Linked DNA regions of Homo sapiens. The protein of the gene in region 2 interacts with the protein of the main gene of each other region in a pairwise test. Each region holds a gene or a part of one and is shown on either strand. Other genes may lie near its edges.

Region 1 (8,154 bases), on a different chromosome or scaffold from region 2:
GGCCAGGCTGGTGTTAAACTCCTGACCTCATGATCCACCCGCCTCAGCCTCCCAAACTGTTGGGATTACAGGCGTGAGCCACTGCACCCGGCCAAGACTCTGCCTCTTAATGTGATCACCTTAGGGGTTAGAATTTCAACCTAAAAATTTTGTGAGGACACAGAAATTCGGACTGAAGCCACACATTAGAGGAACAGAAAGAAAAAGCTATTGGGCGAACAAAGAAGGGAGTACTAGATCTTGTAAGTGAAGACAAGGGCCAAATCATGTAAGGCCTTACAAAGTTTGGATTTTATTTTTAATTGCAGTGGGAAGCCATTGGTGTATTTTTGAGCCAGGATCATCTTATTATAATTTTCTTTTTCATTTTTTTTTCCCTCTCCCTTCTCCCCTCCCACAGGATCTCATTATTTTGAAGTGATTGATATGATATCAGTGTGGAGAATAGGTTGTAGGGAGCAACAGTGGAAGCGGAAAGATAGCAGGGAATGGTTGCAGTATTTTAGGTGGGAGATGATGGTGACTTGGACCAGGGAGGTGGTAACAAAAATATAGAGAAGTGGATGGATTTAGGATATATATTTGAACCAACAACATTTGCTAATAAATTAGAAGGGATTTATTGCAGTGAGCCGAGATCGTGTCACTGCACTCCAGCCTGGGCAACAGAGTGAGACTCCATGTCAAAAAAAAAAAAAAAAAGGCACAGCCATGATGAGTTGCCTGTATATAATAGGCCCCAGAGAGCTCCCTTGCCCCTTCTAACATATGAGGACAGAGTCTGAAGGTACCATCTATGAACCAAAAAACCTCAGACATTGATTCTGCTGGCAACTTGGATCTTAGAATTCCCAGTCTCCAGAACTGTAAGAATTAAATTTCTGTTGCTTATATGTTATTTCATTATAGCAGCCTGAATGGACTAAGATATTTGCCAGTAACATTTGACTTCAGGTCCTCTGCTCTTGCTTTTCCTCTCTCAGGAACACTTTCTACCCAGCCTTTCACATGGCTATCTTCTCACCCTCAGCTCTTTGGCTGAAATGTCAGAGGGTCTTCCCTGACTTCTTACCTAAAGTAGCCTCTCTCCTAGTCACTCTCTCAAATAAGTGATAAGCTATTTGCACTTATCACTACTTGAAATTATATCATTTGCTGACTTGTTTACTATCTCCCCATACTAGAATATAAAATTCAAGAGCTCTAGGCTTTTGTCTTGTCTCTGTTTTATCCCTAATGCCTTAAAAGTGCCCAGCACAAAGGTGAAACGCAATAAAACATTTTCAAAATAAGAAAATTTAATGATTCGAACAAAGCAGTTTCAATGGTGGGTGAAAACAAGTCTGAAGGGGACTAATGAATGAATAGTAAAGAAAAAGAAATGGAAAATGTAAACTTCTTTTAGGAAGCATGATTGTGAGAGGAAGAGAGGTACAACAAAGGTGGAAGACAACCAAGGTTGTGGAAACGTCATTATGGGAAGAGAAAAACTTGTTCCTTAATTCTCTTTACATAAGGATCCTCTTTCAGAATTAAAAGTCCTGCATCCTCTCCTCAGAAAAATGCAAATACACCTTTACAAACAATTTCAGGGGATTTAAGACTCTATAAGGTCCTTGGACTCCAGGTGAAGAAGCCCTACAGTACAGAAACAATGAAGATTCCTAAGGCATGAGTTAATGTTAATTGATGGAGAAAGACAGCTGAGGTAATAAGAGGAAACCCAGATAAAGATGTATTGCCCCGACACAAGAAAGACAAAAGCAAGGACAGGTGAAGATTTAGACACTTGTAATCCCAATAATCCCAACACTTTGGGAGGCCAAGGCCAGAGGATCACTTGAGCCCAGGAATTTGAGACCAGCCTGGACAACATAGTGAGTTCCTGTATCTACAAAAATTAAAAAATAAATTAGCCAGGCATAGTGGCATCCACCTGTGGTCCCAGCTACTTGGGAGGCTGAGATAGGAGAATCACTTGAGCCCGGGAGGTCAAGGCTGCAATGAGTCATGATCGCACCACTGCACTCCAGCCTGAGCGACAGTGAGATCATGTCTCAAAAAAAAAAGGTAAGTGTCATGGAAATCTGAGGAAGTTTCTGTCTGGTTGAATTTTAATTTTTCAGTGAAACAGGAGCTAAGATTATATAATAAAAAGTATCATCGGTGTTGAGCAAAATATGAAGCACATAATATGTATTCAACAAATTATTGATTTTTTGATAGAATGGAAAATACTGGAGTACTTCAATGGAATTCTGAAATCTGGTTCCACAAAAGCTTACTACAGTTGAGGTGGGTTTTTCTTTTTAAAAATATTGTCTCCAAAAGTGTAGACTTATAGACATTGAAGTAGAAAGGAACTGCCTCACTAACAGAAGGATGTGGAAAACCATACAAGATTTATGAATAATTCTGAGAGAGTATTTTATATAATAAAAATAAGTGGATAAATATTTTGGGAAACAATCAGCAAACTAAATACTGCGAGCAACAATAAAGATTAATCTTAAAAAAAATGTTGAGTAAAGAAGCAAGATGTAAATGAATACTTAGTACAATTCCATTCGAAGTTCAAAAACAAGCCAAACTGTAATGTGCATGTTCACATACAATGATGTGAAACATTAAGGAAAATCAAGGAAGTGGCTATCTTAGAAGTCAGGAGAGTGGCTATCTCTGGGGAGGGAAAGAAATATGTAATCTGAAAAGGTGATAAATAGTAATACCTCTAACTGCCTCTGTGTATGGAGGACTTCAAAACCAAATCGTCCTAAACAAACTAGTCTAAGCAACTCAAAAAGAAGACAGAAAAGATCTCCCAGAGAATCTCTACACCTGATTATATTCTGGGCTACAGGCAGTGATTTTTCTTCAGAAGGTAAACAGTACGCGAGATATTGTGGAAGCTGCCATTAAATAATGCCAAAGTTTAGGATTTAAAATTAATATTTAATTAATGTACCGTCCTAGTTATTTCCCACTAATTAAGACTGAAGAGTTTGGCTCATTAATCAATTAAAATACAAACAAGAATCTGTCTTATCCTGGAAGCAGATTCGAATGCGACATCCTACTTCTATAACTAACCTGTTTTTTTCTACTTACAAACCTATTGTTATTCTACTTATGTCCTTACACGTAAACAAAGTATACTTGAAATGCTGAACACCAGTACAGAAAATTTTAAACAAGGAAATCTCCTAGGATATAAGGTCCTGGAATGGAAGAAGGAAAACGTTGGGACACTATAATCTATGCAAACTTTCCCGAAGCTGCGAAAAAAAAAAAGTGAAAAAAAACCATATTTCTGTGAGTTTTTAGGTATCAAGTCCATGATCACCTAGTTATCCAATTTAAGTCTCAAATAGTTTTTCAACAAAAGCCAGCTTTCCCTGCCTTTACTGTGTATAATTTTTACTAAAATTATCTGAGATTTTCATGCAAATGCCTATGTAATCTCAGCCTTTCACCACCCCAAGTCTAGAAAGAGGCTCAGAAATGAGCGATCGGGAGTCAGGCTGAACTCCCAAATCTGTGACTTCCAAATTCCTCGGCTCCACCAGAGCTTCCAGAGCGTTTCTAAACTGAACAGTCTCCCCAACAACCAAGCGGAGAGCTGCGGGAGGACGCGAAGCAGTGACCATAGGAACTGGGCTCAAACCTAACCTCCCAAGAAACAGGGGCAACTCGTGCTGCCGAGCTTCCGGCCGGCAGCTGTGCCCGCCGCTGCCCCTCACAGCCGCTCCCGCTGCTAGCGCCCAACTCCGCCCGCCACGGCCCCGCACCCGCCACTCCTGCCCGCTTGCAGCCGCCTTCTCAGAGACCTTCCAGTCCAGTAGCAGCACTCTCCCCACCCCGCGCACCTCCGCAGCTTCTACCTGGAGCTCCGGGTCCCTCCCCGGGCTCCTCGGCCCGCCGTCCTGCCCAGAGCTCATCCCCGCGACTGTCAGCTCTCGGCCTCAGCGGGGGATACAAGAACCGCCCACTCTCCATCCTCCGCCCCTTTCTCCTCCCTTCCCACCCCCAAATCGTCCTGGCCCCGCCCCGGCGGATCGGAGGAAGGACGGAGCCCGCGGGAAGGAGGAGGGGGCGGTTAGCGCCAGCCAGTGCCGCCGTGGCCCCGCCCTCACGCTCTGTACCGGAGTGGGGCTCGTCTTCCACCTCCCCGGCGCCCCAGCTTTGCTTCCGTCCCGCTCGCCCCCAGGCCCGGTGCGCACGCGTACCTGGCTCGACCTTCCTTCTCGCGGGGTCTACAAGCCGTGCGCGCGCTCCTACGCACGGAGCGACGCGTACGTCTACCTGCCTGCCTTACAGGGCACCTAGGAGGGACCCCTTCCTGGCCCATCCGCGCCGCGCAGGCGCACGCCCACGCAGCGCCTAGACGCCCGAGCCGAGCGTCCCGTCTCCTAGTAACCAGCCGCTAGCCCCCTTTTCCACGACTCATTTCTTAATCTCTGCCTGAGGCTGCCGCACCTGGATGGAACGCGCATGCGCAAGGCTGTCTCTCGCAGCCCCGCCTTCCCTCAGCTTGAAACACCTGCTGCTTCGCGGCGGTGGCTTTGTGCCACTTTTCCCAGGGCTTGGGCATCATTCTGGACCCATGTTCGGTGAACCGGTTACTCTCAGAGCTGCTTTCGGGCGCAGCTCCTGCTGCAGCCAGGGCCCGTTTTAAGAGAGGCTTCCAGGTCCAGCCCTCCCGCTGCAGCCTGCAGGGAGCGAGCCGGCCTGTCCCGGTGAGCGTGGGCAGCCTGGAGTCAGGGGAGCCTGGGGACCACGGCCTTGGTCAGCTCTGCACGATCAGGGCTGAATCAGGAAGTGGCAGATCTAGCAACAAAGTCCAGATTCCTGACCGATATTCCTTCTCCACATGCCAGTCCTTTTCCAAATCCCCTCACCTTAAAGTGACAAATGAGCTTTTTAGTGAAAAAGAATGAGCGCTGCATTCTTCTACCAATTTTTTGGAGCCCAGAATGGGGGGGAAAAAAGTCTTCTTAATTTTTCTTAATACCTACCATGTCCCTTCTTAAATAACTCAAGAGCTTCTGGATGATAATGGTGACTTTATCTCCTTTTCCTGCAGATGACATAGACACTAGGTTTTTACAGCAATTCTCTGATGACCTTGATATGGTAGAACGCTGTGTATTTCAAGAGTAAGCTCTCGTTTGAGGAGACTAACAATTCCTGTTTTCGCCAGGTGAGTACTCATTTTTCCCCCCACAAGATATCATTGGCAGGGATAAACAACTTTTGTGTAGAACAAATTTAGTCATAAAAATACATTTAATATAAATGCCATGTTTTTCCAATGTCTTTTCATCGTGTTATTACATGGTCTCATATTTTGTCGCATTTATTTTCAGATATCATATACTTTGTAAGTATAATTAGATACCAAAAAAAATTAAGTGTCCCTGTTATTTTAGATTAAGAGGTTAGAGGACACAAGGAGCACATATCCTCGGAAATGTAATTTTTTAAATGCACAAAATAACAAACTGAGAAGTTATGTTAGAGGGAATAATGTATAATCTCATTTCCTCTTCAGATACTAAGATTATTTTGAATACATTATCTAGCATTATTAAAAACAAATAGGAAAGAATGTTCTAAGTTTAAAACTATCAGCTGGAGTTGAAGACTTCGGGGGTGGGGAGATTATTAATATAGGAAGTAGGAAAGTACTTCCCTTATAGAAAGAATAAGAAAAGTTTAAGCACTTATGTATGCCACCTAGACGGTACTGAAGATTATTTGGAAAGAATATAAGGAAATGATCATTTTAAGGCCAAAAGAGGGTGAAAAGATTTTCCTTTTTTTTCCTATCAAGAACTGTTGACTTTCTCCCCTAACCTGAGAAAGTAAAAATTTCCTTCCCTCTGTGGAAACCCAAGGGGTAGTGAGTGTCCCACCCTGCCCCAACTAAACCTTTTTTTTTTTTTTTTTTTTTTTTTTGAGACAGAGTCTCACTCTGTCGCCCAGGCTGGAGTGCAGTGGCACGATCTCGGCTCACTGCAACCTCCGCCTCCCGGGTTCATGCCATTCTCCTGCCTCAGCCTCCCAAGTAGCTAGGACTACAGGCGCCCACTACTACGCCCAGCTTTTTTTTTGTTTGTTTTTTGTTTTTTGTATTTTTAGTAGAGACAGGGTTTCACTGTGTTAGCCAGGATGGTCTTGATCTCCTGACCTCATGATCCACCCGCCTCAGCCTCCCAAAGTGCTGGGATTACAGGTGTGAGCCACTGCGCCCAGACTTTTTTTTTTTTTCCTTTTTTTTAAGACAGAGTCTCACTCTGTTGCCCTGTACCCAGGCTGGAGTGCGTTGGCATGATCTCAGCTCACTGCACCCTCCACCTTTCAGGTTGAAGCAGTTCTCCTGCCTTAGCCCCTTGAGTAGCTGGGACCACAGGTATGTGCCACCATGCCCAGCTAATTTTTGTATGTTTTTGTAGAGATGCGGTTTCACCATGTTGCCCAGGCTGGTCTTGAACTCCTGGACTCAAGTGATCCACCCACCTCAGCATCCCAAGTGCTGGGATTATATGCATGAGCCACTGTGCCTGGCCCAGGCTAAGCCTTATATAGTACCCTGTGCTTGCTCTCTCGTGACAGACACCTTCTAAGGTCTTGGTTTTCTAGTCCCTTAATTTTTCCATCATTTCAAAAGCTTCACTACAAAAACCTCTGTTATTACTATTTTTTGTTTTGTTTTCACTGTCCTCTTCCTGATCCCCTCAAAAAAAAATCTGGGACTCCAATTCCATATGTGTTAAGCCACTTGATCTTGTTCCACAGCTCACTGATGCTGTGTTCCTTTTTTTTGTTTGTTTTTTTGAGATGGAGTCTCGCTTTGTCTCCCAGGCTGGAGTGCAGTGGCGCGATCTCCGCTCACTGGAAGCTCTGCCTCGCGGCTTCACGCCATTCTCCTGCCTCAGCCTCCCGAGCAGCTGGGACTACAGGCGCCCACCACCACGCCCGGCTAATTTTTTTGTATTTTTAGTAGAGACGGGGTTTCACTGTGTTAGCCAGGATGATCTCGATCTCCTGACCTCATGACCTGCCCGCCTCGGCCTCCCAAAGTGCTGGGATTACAGGCATGAGCCACCGCGCCCGGCCTGTGTTCCGTTTTTTAAATCAGAGAGTTTCCTCCTTATGCCGAGGCCTGAAAGTTCCAGGCAATGTCCATTCATAGGGCTCACTTTATTTCCTGTTTCTCAAGGATCACTCTCCCGAACTGCCTGTTGTCCAATATCTAAAAGCCATTGCTTCATGTGTTTTGTGTTTTGATGCTGAAAGCAGGCGGGGCACGGTGGCTCATGCCTGTAATCCAGCTACTCGGGAGGCTGAGGCAGGAGACTTGCTTGAACCCGGGAGGCAGAGGTTGCGGTAAGCCGAGATCGTGCCATCGCCCTCCAGCCTGGGGGACAAGAACAAAACTCTGTCTCAAAAAAAAAAAAAAAAAAAAAAGATGCTGAAAGCATGAGGATAAGTCTGGTCTCTGTTACTCCATCATGACTAGCAGCAGAAGTCTGCCATTCTTCACAGTTCCAGGCCCCATGTCACTAACTATCCTCAAGGGATGTGGTTTGCAATGCAAAAATTGCTTCAGGCTGGGGGAACTGTAAGTGCAAAGGTCCTGAAGCAGGAGAAGGTTTGGCATAGAATATGCTTGAGGAACAGCAATGGGGTGATAGGTCTGGGGTCGAATAAGGCAAAGAGACAGGAGAGAGTGCTTGCTAGTAGAGTTGTTTGCTACGGCTGTGCAACAATTTACCACACACTTGGTGTCTTTAAGCAACACAAATTTATTATCACACGGTTCTGGAGATTTACAAGTTCAAATTGGGTCTCACTGGGCTAAAATCAAGATGTCAGGCAGGTCTACATTCCTTCTGGAGGCTCTAGGGGAAAATCCCCTTTCTTGCCTTTCCAGCTTCTACTGGCAGCCCATGTTCCTTGGCTTGTGATCCCAGTCTATATTCAACGCCAAAAATGGCCAGTCAAGTCCTCCTCACATTGCATCATGGCTAACACATTCTACCTCCCTCTTTCACTTCTAAAGACTCTTGTGTGGCAGGTGCGGTGACTCACACCTATAATCCCAGCATTTTGGGAGGCCAAGGCAGGTGGATCACTTGAGGTCAGGAGTTC
Region 2 (6,978 bases):
GAATTAACTCAAGGTCTGAGAGGAATAGACAGGCACCTGAAAATCCTGCCATATTTGAATACTTCAGAATTATGCATTCTATCTATGTAGCCTGAGAGTATTTAATTATTAAAAGTAGAAAGCAAAGGTTTTTAATACCTTTACAATGTAAAAGCACAAATGAGGGAAACTGGGAGGTGGAAGAGGGAGTGGAGGTAATGAGAAGGGAGTGATCTTAGTTTTCAAAGTGGCAAGTCAGGAAAGACTGTCCTTGGTTGATGGAACATAAAAGAAAGAATGCTGGGCTATTTGGGATTCCATTTAAATAGTGCCTTCTTCCTTAAGTTCTGAACCAAATGAAAAGAAAAAAGAGCCATTAGAAAGAGAACAAAATACCACCTTTATTATTGATAAAAACCAGTTTGATGATTGTACCTTGTTTTGCTAACTCCCATTCAGTTCAGCCCTGGGAAGAGTCATCCAAGAGAAAGTTTGAGTCAGCAGAGAGAAACACTTGTTCAGGCTGGTGCCTTTCATTGGTTTGGGTGGAGAGGGAAGGAGAAACTAAAGCCCAAGTTCAACACATTTGGGAGACTCCCAAATGAGATGTTAGAACAATGGTTATCACCCACCAACCAGGTAACTCATTCCACCTCCATGGGGAGGAATAACTGACAGGACAAGAGGCCAGGAATGTTAAAGAACAATCCTCTGCGTTGAAGAAAACATCCAGAGTGGAAAAGAAACATGTTTCTAACAGTGTAAATATATTTAAGTTAAAAAATCGTGATTTCACTATATTGAGAGAAGGGGGCGGGTGGTCTGAGGGAACCAAATTTTCATCTATCATAGTAGGAGTTACATGGATGTTGCCTATAATTCATAAATCAGGAAATAGTGAGATAAACATTATTTGGAGATACATAAGTAACCCTTGGAAGAAATAAAAACAGTTGTACACTGATGAGTTTCCTCTGGGGAATGGGACTGGGGATGGGAAAGGAAAGGGTGGGAAGGAAACTCTTCATTCTAAGCTTTTCTGTTCTACTGGATTTTTCAAACCATATGCCTGTTACTTTAATATTATATCAAATTAAAAGAATCATGCTTTTTCAACTGGGAAATACATACTCGGCAGTGGCTAGGTGGTGCTAGAAGTCACTGGATGCATTTTAGAACATCAGTTTTTCTTGAATATTTGTGAGAGGGAGTTAAGTAATATAAATAATATAACTGAAAACATTTTTGAATAAAAACAAACTCTGATGCATTATGTAGTCAAAACAAGCTTCTCTTGAATTTTTATATGAAATATGAGACTGCAAAGAAACTCAGCTTTGCTACAGGTTACTTGCAGCTAAATGTCTATCTTTCCTCTTCCCATGAACCAACCCTCTTCTGCCATTGAAACATTTCCATTGAGACATTGGAAATGCCTGAGAATGAGCAACATTTTAAAACAGTTTAGCACTTCCTAGATGATTACATAATTTCAGCAGTTATTTCTGATTTCCTTACTGATCTTATTTTCTTATTGATCTTATTTTCTTTCCTTTGATTTCTTGCTCTGAGCCCCTATGCTAATATGTTTTTCCTTCTGAACTCAGAGACACCCATTTATCAGTAATATGCATACATTTTCTTTAGTGTTAGTAATAGAAATTGCTTCCCCAAAAAATCGTCGAAGAAAAAGTGAGCTACAAATGACTTAGAATTTAGTCTAAAGTGTATTTGATTTAAGATACCCAGCGAGTATATCAAAACCAATATTGCTTCAACAACATTTGTTGAATACCTGCTAAGTGCCCAGGTCCTGAGTTTAGCACTGAGAATACAGAGCTGTTTAAGGACCTCATTGTCTCATGGGCCTCCATGTTAATGTAATTAATTAGGCTAGATGTTAATTAATAGTAATTAGCAGGGCTATTTACAGTGGCACCCACACCCCATGGTGTTTTCTGCTGTTTAGAGCAAAACTTGGAGTGGTCCTACTAAATAACCTGAAAGAAAAATGAGTGCTCTTACTTTATCCTTAAGGAAAGGTGATCTCAAGAGAGGAATAGGTTTGTCCAAAGGTCACCAGCTTAGGAATGGTAAAGCCAGAATTAAAATTCTATTCCCCTGATCCTTAAGCCACTACCCTTCCTACTTTGTCATGTTATTGAGCTTTCTAGGAGAAAAATTTGAGCCATATTACTTTTGTCAACCTTGCTAAAATATTTCATTTCTCTTTTCATATTTTATCATTAGTGAAGATTTTATACTATCCAACTTAAGATTTTGTATTAGTGCCTTCATAAATCTTTACTGTGGTCTAATTATAGTAAATAAAGCTGCATGTGTGTGTATGTGTGTATTATTAAGCTAGATTCTAAAAATGAATTAAATGAGTCTAATGATAGTAAATGAAGCTGCATGTGTGTGTTAGATTCTAAAAATGAATTAAATGAGTGCTTTATTATCCAGGCTTTATCACTCAAATATAAAATATAACAGCAGCAATATGATAATAGTAGTTAACATTATTTATATGCTAACTCTGTGCTAGTCCTGTTTGAGCACTTGGTATTCATTGTCTCATTTCATCCTAACAACAACCTGATAAGATGATGCTGTTATCCTTACTATAAGGATTAGGAAAATAGGGATTTGAAGGGGTTAAGTCACTTGCTAAAGGTCACATAGCAGATAGGTGTCAAAGTAGGCCTTAAAACCTAGGATTGTGATACTAGAGCCAGTGCTTTTAATCAGGTGTCAGAAGTGGATGAAATCAAGCACTATGGGAAATTATGATATTTGACTTTATCTTTCTAGAGCATCTTTATTTACTTTCAGTGGCAAGTGTGCTAGTTGTTTCATAGCTAAACAATCACATAGTATGAATGAGAATATAATCAGTTGTTGTTTCATAGCTAAACAATCACATAGTATGAATGAGAATATAATTAGTATACATAAGAATTATGTTTTTAAATTAGTCCCATCCTGTTTCTAGCATGTGAGCCCTAGTTCAAATCCCAGCTGTTTCAAAGCTACTTGTTAACCAATTGATAGCACCTTTTAATTTCCCCACCATAATTTTTATGACATAATTTATCATTAGTCTTCCTTGTGTTATAGATATTCGAATTTTTTTATTAGCTTCTCTGCTAGATTAAGTTATTTACACAGAAGCCATGACATATTTATCTTTATATGGCCCATAGTATCTCATAGAGTGAGATAATGCAAGTGGAAACTCTTTCAAAACTCTTAAGCAATTAGAGACAGTGCATAATCAATGTTTACCAAGTGTATATTTTCTAAGATGCCTTATTGAGCTATAAGTATATTTTATGTTTTGAATAAATTTTTACTGCAATTTGTGTAAAAATTGTTCTTTTTGAACAATTTTACTGACTAAATTAACTGCCCTCTGTGCCCTTTTAGTGTGTAGATGGGGTTTTAGGTGGTGAAGATTATAATCACAACAACATCAACCAGTGGACTGCAAGCATAGTGGAACAATCCTTAACACACCTGGTTAAGTTGGGAAAAGCCTATAAATATATTGGTAAGTATCAGTATCCTTCCTCACTAGTTCACTTGCTTTTGTCATTGTGATTTTCTCTGAATTTTGAGAAGGTATATGTACAATAGACATTTAAGTTGGATACTAAAAGGGTATAAAGGACTTCTGATTTACTCATTCAAAGATAATCTATAATAATACTTAAAAGATGAAGATCTTTCACTACTCAAAGGCAGTTTGAGCTACTTTTCTTTGGTAGCATCACCCTTTGCATTTCCATCAGTTCTTTCTTTCCACTGAGACCCCCCCTTAGCTCAACTGTGTTTCTTTCGGTAGTCCCATGCCTCTTTACCTGTAATTCCACACAGCAACTGTTTATAAAGTGGAGTATTTCCTGCATTTCTGTGTCTGAATTCTGCCCATGGTACAAAGCACAGAATTTGACTGATATTTTTCCTGCAATACAATCACCAATGGTAATGACAATGGTCAGAAAACCAACTGAATCCAGTGGGGTCAAAATCATGATGGTAGATAAAGATGAGAGTCTTTTATTTTTTTTTCAATCTATTTGCTGAACGCTTTGTTTTCTGTTTTTTGTTTGTTTGTTTGTTTTTTGTCTTGTTTTCGGCTTGTAGAGCTCTGAACTCACACACTTTGACCTTGGTTCTCTTTTCCTTTGTCTGTAAGTGCCCTCATTCTGTGACTTTATTTGCAGTGACCTGTGCAGTGGTCCAGAAGAGCGCATATGGCTTTCACACAGCCAGCTCCTGTTTTTGGGATACCACATCTGATGGTAAGAGATCTTAAGCTGATTTACACAAAATCCAACTTTTAGCAAAGTCAAACTGCACTTTTTAACCAAGTACTTATTTAATTCTGATTAAATTCTGAAAAGACTATCAACAGTATTGCTTTGTACCTAGTAACAAGTATACCTTCAGACCGATATGAAATGTGAAAACTTAACAGGTTGAAGGAAATAAGATATTAAAACATGTGAAAAATGTATGTGTATATATATATATATATATGTGTGTGTGTGTGTGTGTGTGTGTGTGTGTGTGTGTGTATATGTGTGTGTGTGTGTGTGTGTGTGTATATATATATATATATTCTCTGATAATTTTTATGTTTTGCTGGTATTTCAAAATCCTTTTTTTGTGTTTCAGGAACCTGTACCGTAAGATGGGAGAACCGGACCATGAACTGTATTGTCAACGTTTTTGCCATTGCTATTGTTCTTTAACTGACTAAAAATGTTGGGCTAAAGCCATTAACTTAAGAATTTGTCAGTGTATCCTTTCCAAAAAGAGTAATAGTTGTTTACTAGTGTGCTAGATGAAAAGCGTGCAATATGCTTTAAAGCTATCAACAAAAACTGAATATTATAAGCAAGCAATATCATAGTAATTGGCAGATTAGCTCATATTCTATACAGCATCGTTTAAATAGGAAAAATTTAATGCTAGCAAAAAATAAATTTAGAAATATGGCATGACATGAAAATACAATCTTATATTTACACCAGCTTTTCACTAATATTTTGTACCTAAGGTGATGGGGAACTCCATTCAGATAATAAAATTCTCTTTCAGCTAGAGAAGTTAACAGGAATAAATATATGAACAAAAAAGCTGCAAGGATAAATGTGGAGAAAATGATGAGAATTAGCTAACATTTTTAAGTTTTTTTAAACTTTCTTCCCCTCAGTTGTACTTAATATTTAGTGGAAAGTAATAATTTTTTTAATTTTCTATCAACTAATAGTATAGTAACAACTATGATTAACTTGTTTACTTTTTCTGAGGATTAGTAAATCAATTTTTTTTAATTTCAAATTTTTGGATTTACACTTGAGGGTAAATTAAATCTGGTAAACTGAATTTCCTAGTTAAATAAAATTAGTTGCAGTATATGATGAACAGTGTATGACTCAAACAGCTGCCTTACAATTCACTCATTCCATGTGGAACAAACATTTATCAGATGCCTATTATGGGCATATGTCTCTGCTAAGCACCATAGTTGTCAATGTGCTGTGCAAATGCTAAGTTCCTTTTAGCAATTGTTCAGTTGGAAGACGTATTAATATTTGGGGAAGGAAAAGAAAGTAGTTGTTTTACAAGGGAGGAAAAAAGTGAATCTGGTTACACATATGGAAGTAAGCAAAATGAAAAGCACTTATTGCTTTCTGACAGAATTATAGATGTAATTTTAAGAGTTGCTCCTAGCAAGTTAAAAGTGCATATAAAATATGCAACTCTTAGTTAAAGGCCTTATTATCAGTCTTACCTATACAAGTAGTAAATTTTGTCATTGCTTTAGTTACAACCATCTGTAAATAACTTAAAAGACTTATTATGTGGGGTTCAAATTGAGTGGAATAAAGTATAGATTAAAAGTATACAATCCTTAGCACGTTATCTCAGGGCTTATGAAATGTAATTAAATTTATTAAGAAAATAGATGAAAAATTAGGGTACACAGCTGGCCACCAAATGCGAAGTCAATCTGCTACTTAACCCTGAAAACAAAATCAGTTTTGCATATTACCACTAACACTAATACATATAGAGAGCGGAACCATAACTCATTGAATTTTGGAGAGGAATAAGCTTAGCGTTAATATTGACAATATTAAGGCAATATTCTTGTAGGAATACTATGTGCATGTTTGATATTTTGCCAAATAACAATAATTAATAATTGTTCAATGTTTAAGAATAATATTAACAAAATAAAGGAGTTTAATGCAGTGATCTTTGTTTTTGGCACATCAAAAATTCTCAGTCATTATTCATGTTTCTTTATGCTGCTGGCTTTTGTGCCCTGGAAGATCATAATAGTGACCAAAATATACATGCAGACTTGTTTTTTATTATTGTTGTTTAAGCATAATTTAAGAAAAAAAATTTTTACCTGGTGAACTTGCTATCTGCTCTGTTTCTAGTTAAAATATAATAAATATTATCTTCCTGTGCTGTACTTTTGCTTCTGGATAATCATTTAATAGTTAGAGAAATGACATTCTGCTTGCTCTTAGAAATTCTAAATAGAAGAAATGCTGGGGGTGGTGGCTCACACCTGTGTAATCCCAGCACTTTGGGAGGCAGGTGGATCATTTGAGGTCAGGAGTTTGAGACAAGCTTGGCCAACACGGTGAGACCGCATCTCTCTTAAAAATACAAAAATTAGCCAGGCGTGGTGGCACACATCTCTAATCCCAGCTACTCAGGAGGCTGAGGCAGGAGAATTGCTTGAACCCGGGAGGCGGAGATCGCAGTGAGCCGAGATCGTGCCACTGCACTCCAACCTGGGCAACAAAACAAGATGCCGTCTCAAAAAAAAAAAAAAAGAAAAAAGAAAGCAATTCTAAATAGGATAAATGAATATGGGACCACATAGATATATTATGCATATTATGCAGAATAAATACCATTAAAATAGCAGCCCAAATCCAGTATTTACCATTACAACATAATTAA

What was found. The genes of interacting proteins can lie anywhere in the genome.
Region 1: the proteins of DYNLT3 (region 2) and C2orf15 interact in binary tests that used the Homo sapiens proteins (3 or more experiments, as listed by UniProt).

The regions. Positions count from the first base shown.
Region 1 is NC_000002.12:99,137,202-99,145,355, forward strand, and holds the start of C2orf15 (uncharacterized protein C2orf15), read left to right. Parts: upstream 1-4,505; 5' UTR 4,506-4,736; intron 4,737-5,083; 5' UTR 5,084-5,200; intron 5,201-8,154. Other genes in the region: TSGA10 (testis-specific gene 10 protein), read right to left, coding at 3,867-3,938.
Region 2 is NC_000023.11:37,838,336-37,845,313, reverse strand, and holds the end of DYNLT3 (dynein light chain Tctex-type 3), read left to right. Parts: intron 1-3,408; coding exon 3,409-3,532; intron 3,533-4,208; coding exon 4,209-4,286; intron 4,287-4,662; coding exon 4,663-4,739; 3' UTR 4,740-6,478; downstream 6,479-6,978. UniProt on the Homo sapiens protein: Acts as one of several non-catalytic accessory components of the cytoplasmic dynein 1 complex that are thought to be involved in linking dynein to cargos and to adapter proteins that regulate dynein function.